Homo sapiens: one gene and its partner. The protein of the gene in region 1 interacts with the protein of each later gene in a pairwise test. Each region holds a gene or a part of one and is shown on either strand. Other genes may lie near its edges. The genes, in order: APTX and XRCC4.

What was found.
Region 2: the proteins of APTX (region 1) and XRCC4 interact in binary tests that used the Homo sapiens proteins (3 or more experiments, as listed by UniProt).

The regions. Positions count from the first base shown.
Region 1 is NC_000009.12:32,972,018-32,977,825, reverse strand, and holds the end of APTX (aprataxin), read left to right. Parts: intron 1-623; exon of another isoform or gene 624-1,437; intron 1,438-3,264; coding exon 3,265-3,368; intron 3,369-4,137; coding exon of another isoform or gene 4,138-4,142; exon of another isoform or gene 4,143-4,173; coding exon 4,174-4,328; 3' UTR 4,329-5,210; downstream 5,211-5,808. UniProt on the Homo sapiens protein: DNA-binding protein involved in single-strand DNA break repair, double-strand DNA break repair and base excision repair.
Region 2 is NC_000005.10:83,199,512-83,206,806, forward strand, and holds part of XRCC4 (DNA repair protein XRCC4), read left to right. Parts: intron 1-4,040; coding exon 4,041-4,196; intron 4,197-5,303; coding exon 5,304-5,410; intron 5,411-7,295.

The DNA of each region.
Region 1 (5,808 bases):
AGAGTCTCACTCTGTTGCCCAGGCTGGAGTGCAGTGGTGCAATCTCAGCTCCCTGAAACCCCTGCCTCCTGGGTTCAAGCTAGTCTCATGCCTCAGCTGTCCGAGTAGCTGGGATTACAGGCATGCGCCACCACGCCCAGCTAATTTTTGTATTTTTAGTAGAGATGGGGTTTTGTCATATTGGCCAGGCTGGTCTTGAACTCCTGGCCTCAAATGATCCACCTGCCTTGGCCCCCCAAAGTACTGGGATTACAGGTGTGAGCCACTGCACCCAGGTTTTTTCCCCCCCATTTTTATAAATGAATTTTTTTATTCATTTTTTGTTTTCGTTTTTGTTTTAAGAGATGGGAGTCTCACCCTCTCTCCCAGTCTGGAGTACAGTGTCAAGATCATAGCTCACTGCGGCCTTGAACTCCTCGGCTCCAGGTATCCTTTTGCCTCAGCCTCCCGAGTAGCTGGGGCTATGGGTGTGCCACCATGCCTGGCTGATTAAAACAATTTTTTAGAGATGAGGGTCTCACTATGTTGCTCAGGCCAATGTTGAACTCCTGACCTCAAGTGATCCACCTGCATCAGCCTCCTGAGTAGCTGGGATTACAGGTATGAGCCACGTGCTTGGGTCATTTTTATAAATTGATATGAAACTTTTATCAATTAAAATTCTGGTAATTTATTTTTATCTCTTAAGTGAAAATGTACCTTGACTTTTTTATTTTTTAACGGTTTAAAACATGTGCAGTAGAAATTCTCTGTTAATACATAAATGGAAATTACATTTTTTTTCATATTGGCGTGTATCTACAAATATTAAAGGACAAGAAAAGGTAATATAATTTTAGGTTTAACAAATATGGTGTATATTCAAATAATACTTGACCAGCTTATCTAAATTGTACATAATATTTGGACTAGCATATGAATTTGATTTTAATTATTATGTTCACAAGCCTGGGATAATTAGATGTTATTTTGCATCTGTAACTGTAATCATTTCTTGTAATTTCTTGTGCAGGTGTATTGTACTTAATAGATTTTACTTTTGGAAATATGACTGTTGAAATTAGCTTAGCTTTTATTTACTGTTTGTAGAGTATTTTCGTTTTGGAGAAGAACACTGTTTTAGTTTAGGACGCTTTTCAAGAGTGAAAGCTTCTGATGATTTTTTTCCCTCATAGGAAGAAATACTGGAAAGAAAATGTTAGTATAATGCAGTTATTGTAACAGCTTATGACTTGATTTTGATTTGGAAACCTATACTGACCAGATATTAAGCTTAAGGATTGTATAAATCATTAAAGCTGTGGTCTTTTCATATGGAGGTTGATAGATAATTTTTTTGTCTTGAGTCTTATTTGGTGACTTTCTATTCATGTAATTCATCATGTGTGAGTGAGGTTGTTGAACAAACTGAACACATGGGCTACAGCAAGTAGTTTTTATTTTTTTTTATTATACTCAAGTTCTAGGGTCCATGTGCACAACAGGCAGGTTTGATACATAGGTATACATGTGCCATGTTGGTTTGCTGCGCCCATCAACTCATCATTTACATTAGGTATTTCTCTTAATGTTGTCCCTCCCCGAGCCCCCCACCCCCCTGACAGGCCCCGGTATGTGATGTTCCCTGCCCTGTGTCCAAGTGATCTCATTGTTTAGTTCCCACCTATGAGTGAGAACATGCAGTGTTTGGTTTTCTGTCCTTGTGATAGTTTATAGCAAGTAGTTTTACAGTACAGATCTTTCCATTACATTTTATTGTTTAAACAAAACAAAATTTGTTTTTCTGTTAGGAATAAGAAAAAAATGGTTTTTACATAGGTTCTTACGGTACGCTTGGAGTACACTTACAGGCCACTGCTGCAGTCTACATTTTATTGTGCTGAATCTGCATTCTATCAGATACCCATGGAAAGACCTCAGTATATGCTTTGCACTCTGCTTTGCTCCCCTTTTCCAATTTCCTATTGCAAATCATTTTGATGTAATACAGAAAAAACAGCATTTAAATATCTACATGAAGAGTTGACCCACTAATGTCAGCCGACCTCTACTTTGTCAGCTCATAGTTAAATCTTTTATCATTTCAAAAATAAAGTGCATTTTCTTTTTCTTTTTCTTCTTTTTTTAGTGATGGAGTCTAACTTTGTCACCCAGGTTGGAGTGCAGTAGCATGATCTCAGCTCACTGCAACCTCCACCTCCTAGGTTCAAGTGATTCTCCTGCCTCAGCCTCCCAAGTAGCTGGGATTACAGGCACCTGCCACCACGCCCAGTTAGTTTTTTGTATTTTTAGTAGTTAGTTTCACCATGTTGGGCAGGCTGTTCTTGAACTCCTGACCTCAAGTGATCCACCTGCCTCGGCCTCCCAAAGTGCTGGGATTACAGGCGTGAGCCGCCGCACCTGGTTGCATTTTCAAAAGAATGAATTTAAGAATAATAAAATTAAAATAGGCCCACTTTTAAATTGTGGTCCATTTTATAATTCAATTTTTATTGTTAACAAAAAAAAAGAGTATAAATCAGATAGTAGCACTCTTCGGCTGAAAATCCTTCAATGGCTTCCCAGTAGATTCAGAATAGAATGCAAACCCTTTGTCACCTTTAAGAGGCTTTATGACCTGGCTCCTGCCTCGTTTCTGCTGCTTGGCTCCAACAATTCAGGCCATACATTTGGGCCATATTACCTTCTTTCTCTTTCTTGGTTGCACTGAGCTTTTCCTCATCTCAGGGCCCCTGCTCTTGGCCTCCTCACTTTCTGAGACACTCTTCCCACAGACCTAGCTTGCTTGGGTGCTGTCTCCGTTCAAATCACTTCCCGGGAGATGCTTTCCCTGAACACTGTTAACTAAAGAGGGCAGCTTCTACCCCTGGGCACTCTATCCCATTTTCCTTGTTTATTTTTTCTTGGCAATGTTAATTCTTTAAGTTTTTTTTTGTTTGTTTATTTGTTTGCTTATTTATTATTTGTCTTTCCTCATTAGCGTACAATTTCTATAAGGGCAGAGGCTTTTCCCATTTTGTTTCTTGCTAAAGTCTCAGTGCCTGGAACAGTGTTTGGCCATAGTACATACTTATTGAGCATTAAATATTCTTAAGTAAATGAATGAATCAATTGAATTAAATGGACACACTATCACTTCAATAGTATGAATATTCAAAGAGTATTCAATAGTATGAATATACAATGTACTCATACTCTTTGTCATTTTGATTAAGCCATAGTTGTTAAAGAGTTTAATGCTCAGTTTTTTTTTCTTTCAACTAGCCATGTACATCTTCATGTGATCAGCCAGGATTTTGATTCTCCTTGCCTTAAAAACAAAAAACATTGGAATTCTTTCAATACAGAATACTTCCTAGAATCACAAGGTAAACAGTGTTCCTTGGTTTTCACATTTGTTTCATTTTCTGAGCTGTTCTTATATTTGATTTGGTTGTTTCCCTGAATAACAGTCTGACCTCAAAAACCTATGTACAACTTTGTGTTCCCTATAAAGCGAGCCCTGTGAAAAGAAACTGGATTATTTGGATTGTAGTATTATTGCCACTTTGCTGTGAGTTGTCTTCTTGGGGGACCTAGAAAGCTATTATGTCAGGGTCAGTGTTTTATTGTGACAAAAGGGGACTTAAAGGCTGCCGTGAGAATTAGTGGAGTTCATGGATAAGAAAGCTGTGGACAATTCTTTGTCTCTTCTGCCATCAGTTGGGTGGGAGCTTTGGGGCTGCCTCCTGTCAGGAGTGGTGAATTAGCAGGGGGAACCCTGTGTATATGTAGAAGAAAGCATTTTCTGGTGTGTGATGCTTTCTTACACACCAGGAAAGCATTTCCTGGTGTGTAAGAACTTAAGCATTGATGGGGTGTTCACAATGGCAGCTGGCATTTACCAAGGGCCAACCAGAGGTAAAGCACTCTGATGAGCTCTTGACAGAGTAACATGGATTGCCTAGAGTGTGTCCTGAAGGAGTGTATTATTTCAAAGGTGGGTTGCTCATATTTATAATCTGATTAAGCTCATTTTGCCTGAGGGAAGTCTAAACTAAGCTTACGGAGCTGTAGAATACCTGGCCTGGCATACTGATTGGAGTCACGTTTTTGATTTTTTTTTTTTTTTTTTGGTATCTCATATTGGTTTTCCAGAGTAGCTGGGATTTGACTTTTCTTCCTTGCCTGCAGCTGTGATCGAGATGGTACAAGAGGCTGGTAGAGTAACTGTCCGAGATGGGATGCCTGAGCTCTTGAAGCTGCCCCTTCGTTGTCATGAGTGCCAGCAGCTGCTGCCTTCCATTCCTCAGCTGAAAGAACATCTCAGGAAGCACTGGACACAGTGATTCTGCAGAGCCTGAGCTGCTGCTGTGGTGTGGCCCACTGGAGCAAACTGCTGGCACCTATTCTGGGTTGCTTGTGAACTTCTACTCATTTCCTAAATTAAAACATGCAGCTTTTTCACAAATTTATTCTATTATTGAGTGGCCACAATGTAGAGTGGCTCAAAGTACTTCAGGATTAGGAATTTGGGTTTGTCATAGATGTATTCTCTGGTGAGGGTGGCTGGGATATACCTGACCCACCATCTTCAGAAGGACCCATGTCAGGTCTGACCATTGGGAGCAAAGCCATGTTCACACTGACCTAATGCAGAGTATGGAAGCATTGGGCTGGTTATACATTTCTGTTTCTTAGATTTATCCTCCGCCTCTGTAGGCATGGACAACCTTTAATCAGAGCATCTAGAGTGGCCTCTTGTTTATCCTGAAGATACTGATGGGTCTTGTTTTCTGTTAGTCTGTTTTGTAATATTCTTTTCCCTTCCTTCATGGGGAGGCTTAGTTTGTCCAGTCCTTCCATGCCCTTCTATCCCAGATTACCTAAATGTTCCCTTCTCAGGAATTCTGTCTCATCAGTTCTTCACAGTGAGAAAAGAGGCTAGATGATGGTGTGGGGGGTTGGAGTTTTCTTCTAATACCGAGGGTTCCTGGCTGTGAGGAAACAGCCACATGTTCGTCATGATTGAGCTGTGAAGTCTTCTTGGACCTGTTGTCTGAAAATAAAGTTAATTTGTTTGAGGCATCTCTCTTAAGTAGGTGGAAACTATTGAAGTTCAGCTAACAATCACAGCATAGGTTCTGATGCATGGAAAGGTGGTTGGTGAATGAAAAAGTTGCGTAGAGCCACTACTTTCTTTTTCCCTGAGAATAAATTTGGATAAAACAGTTGTATTCAGTTGTTTTTTGGGATAATATTAGAACTAAAGGTGAAGGGAAAACTAAAAAGTTGGGTTTGATGAAATTGTGGATATCTTTGGGGATGTGACTTTTCACTCAAGTTGTGAGAAAAAAGGAAACACCCTTAACAAAAGCTTCTTCTGGAGAGAAAAAGCCACAGTCCATAGAGACATTTGACCTCAATGTCTTTCACAAACAAACAAGATGCCACAGTGGTTACTTAGTGAACATAGGTATAGTAATAATTATATAATTAATGATCATAGCAGCTCACATTTGTCTGACTCCTGTGTGTCCTGCATTATGCTAAACACTGTACTCAAGTGATCTCATTGAATTCTCACTGTACATAACTCTATGAGGTTACGTGCTATTGTTATGCCCCTTTAGTGGATGAGCATCTAATATTCTACAATGGTTCCTGGGCACTATCCAAAGTTGGTATTGATTCTGATGCATCAACTCATTATTTTTCTTATCAATTGAACAGTATAAATGCAAGACTAACAGCAGAAGCCATAGAACCCAGGGGCCTTGGACCTGTGCTGATCAAAAGCTTTCCGTGGCATTTCATTGATTTCCCTGA
Region 2 (7,295 bases), on another chromosome or scaffold:
ACTGATTATTAATTTAAGGATTACTGCACTGTGTCTAAATACCATATGTTCACATTTATATATCTATTATTTTATTTTGAGCTATCATTTAATCTGTTGTTTCATTTTTGGTGTTATTTCTGCATGAAATTGTTGTGTTTTTCCTCCTAGTTTGTTATTGTTTTGACATGTTATTCTTAGATTGTTTTCCCACCCAGAGACATTTTATTTTGAATATTCAGTATTTTTTTGTATTTTTTTATCCTTTTAATTTTTTAAAAAAAATTACTATTTTTTTGTCCAAGGTTTTAGATACCTCAGTGCTAGGTTGCTAATTAAATTTAGCATTATTGTTCTGTTTTCCTAGTTATTGTAGAAAGGATGAAGTATCATTAGACCTTTCTTGTTTGATGTTATTTGTGATTTCGTCCCAATTTGAGATTTGCCTGGATTTGATCCTTGGACTAGTGTGGTCTGATCTAGTTGTACATGGGCTTTTTGTTAGTGTCACCAGACTTAGCAGTGAATCCCATGTCTCTTCTCCACTAAATGTTCTCACCTAACAGTTCCTGTCCAATTTCTTGAGGCATAAGCTTGACAGGAAGCACGTAATGGAATGCATAGTAACATCATAATGCTCTAGGAGAGGATTGGCATTAAAAATTAGGTGGGAATGATACGACATACCTCTTAGTTACTGATTATTGGATAAAAGGATAGCATTCTCTGAGTCTTGAAAAATTAAAAGTTAAGAGTAAATTCATGTCATGCAACTGTTCACACTAATACTTTTTCTCCAGTCAGCTCCCGCTCCCCCACTTTTCTAGGAAGTGTTGTCCAGTTTGATGATCAGAAGTTTGGTTGCAAAAAAATCCTAAAGCTTTGCTGAAACCAAGCAAGGTTAACTCACATGATACCATTCATTCTATTGACTGTGTTTTCCTGTCACAGAAATGTTTCCTTTGACAACATAGATCTGATACTGGTTACTTAAGATTAACAATATTCTTTAGGAATATTATATGATATTTCATTTTCATATTTATTTTCACTTTGAATGTGTCATACCAAATGTTAATTTTAATAAAGGTTTGGGAATTAGCTTGTTAGTTGTTAAGTACACATCATCATTCAATCAAGAATTATTGAAGTGACTTATATGGAAATTAAATATGGACTTAAACCAGATAAATTACTAATTGGTTACCATTCCTAAAATTTAATATAAGAAATTGTAATATATTTGTTTATATGTTTTCACATATTGGTTTTTACTTTGCATATGTTTGAAGTATGTTATTATATACTCAGGTATTTCAGTAATATGTATGTTTTAAAGTTTTTTGTTGTGTTTTTTTGAAAATATTATAGGAAGATAAGAATATCATGCTTACGTAACACTGAATCTGAAATATAAATGTAGTGACATGTCTTTGCTTAAAATAAACTATCAATATTGCTAGCTCCTTTTCAATATTCAGTTTTTTTCTAACATCTTTCGTGTACTTCTTTCTCAGAGAACTTTGCTTAATGAAGGGAATACTGTTAGATTGATATTATTTGCCACAGTTTTTTTAAAAGCTGAAGATGAAAAACATTACTTTTACAATGGTGAATAGCTATTAAATGAGGGAAAAAATACAATATTCGGAATCACTGTTTTTCTGTTTCCTTATAAGATGTCAATATTAGCCATTCTCCTTGGCTCTTCTTCTTTGCTGGAGGGCTATAGTCAGCCATGGTGCCCAGCAGGAATGGCATAATCCTGAAGCCCCACTTTTGTAAGTACTGGCAGTGGCCTATAGCAATATGGTTCACCCAGCCTGCAAGGAAGAGCCACAGACATGGGACTGGGCAAGCCCACTGCATTGCCCGGTGCCTTGTATCTGGACCCACTGGCCCCTAGTAAAATGCCCCACATGAGGTTTCACACCAAGTACAAGCTGGTAGGGGCTTCAGCTTGGAAGAATTAAGGGTGGCCAGCATCCACAAGAAGATGGCCTGGACCATTGATTTCTCTATTGATCCAAGGAGGTGAGACAAGTCTACTGAGTCCCTGCAGGCCAATGTATAACAGCTGTAGGAGTACTGCTGGAAGCTTATCCTCCTTCTCTAGAAACCTCAGCCTCCGAGAAGAGAGACAGCTACACTGAAGAACTCAAATTGGCCATCACACTGACAGGACCGGTAATGTTCATATGAAATACCTATACGAAGGAGAAAGCCAGAGTCATCACCAAGGAGGAAGAGAACTTCAAGACTGCCACGTCAGGCCAGGTGCGGTGGCTCACGCCTGTAATCCCAGAACTTTGGGAGGCTGAGGCAGATGGATCACGAGCTCAGGAGTTCGAGACCAGTCTGACCAACATGGTGAAACCCTGTCTCTACTAAAAGTACAAAAATTAGCCAGGCATGGTGGCAGGTGCCTGTAATCTCAGCTACTCGGGAGGCTGAGGCAGGCGAATCGCTTGAAACCAGAAGGCAGAGGTTGTAGTGAGTGGAGATCGTGCCACTGCCCTCCAGCCTGGGCAACAACAGCGAAAGTCTGTCTCAAAAAAAAAAAAAACAAAAAACCTGCCATATCAATGCCTGGCTCTTTGGCCTCTGGGCAAAAAGGACCAAGGAAGCTGCAGAACAGGATATTGAAAAGAAAAACTAAAGCACTGTTGAGGCCTTGTAATAACTCTGCAGAAAAGCTGGGAAAACGAATAAACCACTGGGAAAATAAATAAACCAAAAAGATGTCCATATTAATTTATTCACTTTATTCGTTTGTCTAATAAGAACCTACCAAACATCTGTCGAATGCTAAACACTATGCTGGGCACTGAGGATACAGTGGCCAATAAAACACACATGCTGTCTGCTTTCGTGGAGTTCACATCTTTGGCAAAGACTGTGCTGTAAGAATTTGCTGAAATTGGTCCCAGAGAATATATTGCCATATTTTCCTTTTTATCCTATGATACGTTCTAATTCTTTGCATCTCTAGATAGGTAGATTGTTGAAAGTTTAAGGGCATGTATATAAAAGCTATCTAATTTGGACATTTGTGTTTCTAATTTCACTGAAATATATATGTGTGTGTCTATATATGTACACACACATATATATTACTACTGGTATATATGTGTGTGTGTGTTTATGTACAGTATAAAAATACTAGGATACCTGTAAAACAACAACAATGTAAATAAGCAGTATGAAACAACATTGAAAAGAATACATAAAATAATTTGTATTTGAATCAATAAAATAGGAATGTATTCATCATGTATGTGTATGCATATATTAAGTATATACAACCTCAGCTATTTTGCTTTCTTTATATATCTCTTGGGAGCTTAAAATAAATACAATCCCTTGTTAGCTCATTTGAGCAGTATGGGATGAATTAAAAACAATAGAGAATTTTGTATGTTTTGTCTTACGTATCTAAATTTGAAGATATGTAGTGTTTTACATTTGCTGTTTTATTAATCTCTCCTTGAATATATCAAGTAGAATACTTTCATTGGGTATGTGTATTGCATTTCTATATGTATTTGTGTGTGTGTGTGTGTGGTGCTCGCTTATAAGAATATAACTGGATAAGTCGTGTTCTTGTTGTGGAGCAGTTTGTTGTCTAGTAGATAAATCAGACAAATTAGCTATGTTGCCTTATCACAAAATAAGATTGTAGTTGCTTTTATAGTAATATTAACATAGTACTGAGGAAACAGGCTACATTTACTCTTGTTTGAAATTTATCCCATAAAAACATTCTTTTGTAAATAAACCATATGTATCAATAAATTATCTTTAGGCATTTTGATTTTCTAAAGGCTTATTTGTATCAGTTTTCAATTTTGATCCTTATCTCAGTAAATAAATTACATTAATAACCAATAATTTCTAATTGTGTATTTAACCATCTTTATAAAACTTCCAAGTCAGTGAAAGCATATGTGAAAATAATCTTTAATTGTATTTTCCTTGAAATCTTCTTGATTATTAGGCTGAATTATGTTAATGCTAAGCAGAACTGCATGACTAATTTGTTTACTTATTTACTTTTTTAGATTTGAAAAATGTGTGAGTGCTAAGGAAGCTTTGGAGACTGATCTTTATAAGCGGTTTATTCTGGTGTTGAATGAGAAGAAAACAAAAATCAGAAGTTTGCATAATAAATTATTAAATGCAGCTCAAGAACGAGAAAAGGACATCAAACAAGAAGGGTATTTTCGCTATCTTGTTTTTGGATGACAGATGAATACATTTAAGTGGAATTTCTTCCCAAAGTTAATGAACATTAGATGCCAACTTTTTGATCATATGAGATAATTTGGTAGTCTGGATGTGGATGTTCAGGCTGTTAGATAGGGGTACCATGGGCTAGAGAGTTCTCAGCATGGTCTCTCTATGTCTGCTCAACTGTGTCACCTACACTTAAATTAAAAAACTGACATGAGGCTTATTAAAGTATTATTTAATTCTTAGACATTAGTAAGACATACTAATTTAAAAAAAAACTTTCATCTGCAGAACTACAAAAGTTGGATGCATATTTGTAATCTTGATGTCTAGGCAATGATTAACTTTAGAATCAAGTGGTTAATATTAAATTCCAGGGAGCACTTATTTTATCTGATTAGAGTGTGATTATCAGTTTTATTCTTCTTTCACATATTCTCTGAAAGTACATATGTACTTGATTTTTATGGAAGAATCCTAAGTGACAAATGGCTGATACGGCTTTCGACGATTATAACTTTTTTACGCATTAGCAAATACAAGTTAGGGTCTGTTGCTTTGAATCTTAGTAGAAGTACAGAATTACCAGTGACGTAGTATAAAAAAATTTGATATCAGCTAGTCCTAGCACAGGTACTGGTCTTGCAGTCATACCTATTAGTTTATAGCTTTGGACAAGTCACTTTATCTTCATAATAAAGGTAAAGATACCCATCTTAGGGTTTTGCAGAGATCAAATGAAATGCGAACTGTTCTGAGATTAGTAAAATGTTAAATACTCTGTGACTCACAGAGATAATTTGTTAGAAAAAGTATTTTGATGGAAGAATAGTACCTGATAAGAAACTGATTTAATATTAATTATAATAAGTACTAAATTCAGATTAAAATTAGGTAAAAGAGAAACTTGTTCTTAAGAGAGTTAATATATAGGTTTTAAGATGCTTTCATCTAAATCATATATATTTTCAATATGTTTGTCTAATTAGAATCTTTTTCTAGGAATATTTTCTATAATTGCTTACTGATAAATCTGCTGCCTAGCAGGGGGTGAGCCAGTTATTTATAATTCTACCTTTCTCTGTTTCTAGGGAAACTGCAATCTGTTCTGAAATGACTGCTGACCGAGATCCAGTCTATGATGAGAGTACTGATGAGGAAAGTGAAAACCAAACTGATCTCTCTGGGTTGGCTTCAGGTAAGAGATACATACATTTATCTCCTCTGTTGAATATCTTATTTGGGCTTCTTATTCTAATGACAAGAAACCATAATGGAAAAATGTTGTGAAAGACCTTATTCTATGAAAATTCTTTAGCATTTTTATTTTAAAAACTCAAATTTTTAATGTTAAAACTTAATATTATTTGTAAAATGCAGCAACTCATTAGCACAGCAGTGTGAGCAAGCATTCATACACATATACTCCAAGGTATACTATTCCTGGTTAAATATAACCAGGAAAAGCATAAGCAATGAGGAAGAAACACCTTTATGCTAAATATCATCAGCTTAAAGCTGGTTGCCTTTAACATTTGAGATCTTATTTAGCTAAAGCCATGAATAGGCCACTGGAGCAGAGTAATCAAGAATGCTCTAAATTATACTGAAGTTGAGGCCTTCTTTCACTCTTCAGAAAAAAGATTGCAACAAGTGAGATGTAATAGAGGAAAAGAGAAGGGGAAAAATGGCAGTTTAGTACAAAGTACCTATGACTTACTCAGTCCTTTGGATCAAGTTCCCAGCAAGTGTTTAAACCCATGAGTTATTTTTTAAAATGTTTTATAGATTTCCTAGTGACGGTGGAAACAGGAGCCTCTGAACTCATTTTATACTTAGATGGTTTTGACCTAAAACCAATACTATTAAAATAAATGCTTGATTTATTTATTTAGAAAATATTTTTGAGTTCCTATTATGTACTAGAAACTTTGCTATGCATTAGACAGCAAAACACAAAAATCTGTGCCATTGTGGAGTTTAAATTGTAGTCAGGGAAACATATAAGATGAATAAATATAAAATATGTTAGGTTGATAAGTGCTAAAGAGAAAAATAAACCAGAGAAGGCGTTAGAAAGGTCAGGGTGAGAATAAGGATGAGGGTTATGATTTTAGCCAGACTATCAGAAAAGGCCTCAGTGAGAAGGTGAAGGTGACATGCTGTCTTGGGGAAGACCATGCCAAACAGAAAACAAAAACAAAAACAAAAACAAAAAAACACTAAGTACAAAGTTCCTGACGCGTTTAAGCAATACTATAGAGTGTAATCTGGATAAAGTAGAAAGATGAAGACTGGGAGAATTAGGAAATGAGATGAGAGAGATGATGGGACCTCATCACGTGTAGGGCGATATAGGCTACCATTAGAACTTCTCCTGTTACTTTGAATTAACTTGGAAACTACTGAAGGATTTTAAACAGTCAGGTGACATAATCTGACTCAAATTTCAAGAGGATTAGTCTGTGTATTGTGTTAAGAATAGACTATAGGATGACAAATGCAGAAGAAGATATAACAGATGGGAAGCTAGTACAACAATTCGGTGAAGGATGAGGCTGGCTTAGACCAGAGTGATGGAGAGGCGATGAGCAAGGAGCAGATTCTAGGTGTGCTTAGAGGCAGCAGGATTTGCTGATGAAGGGGTTATGACTGAGCAAATAAGACTGAGAAGGAGCAGCCAGGAGGTAAGAGGCAAAAATATAAATGTGGTATCCTGCTGATTGATGGATTTAGCAATACAAACGTTATTAAGGATCTTAATAGAACATATTCACTGGATTGGTGAAGGAAGGGGATAGGAGAGAATAGGAGTTTCAAAGGGAATGGGAGGAGAGAACTGGAGATGAGACAGGCAATACTTTCAACAAATTTCACTGTAAAAAATGGGAAAGACATGGGGCGGCAGCTGGAGGAGGAAGTAGGATAAAGAAAAGTATTTTTGTTTGTTGTTTTTAAATAAAAGAAAGAATATGTTTGTATACTGATGAGAGTAACTAAAGAGAGCAGGTAAAACCATCAAGGCAGTAGACAGAGGAAAAACTACTGGAAATCTGTCTCTAAAAATATAAGTGGATGGGATC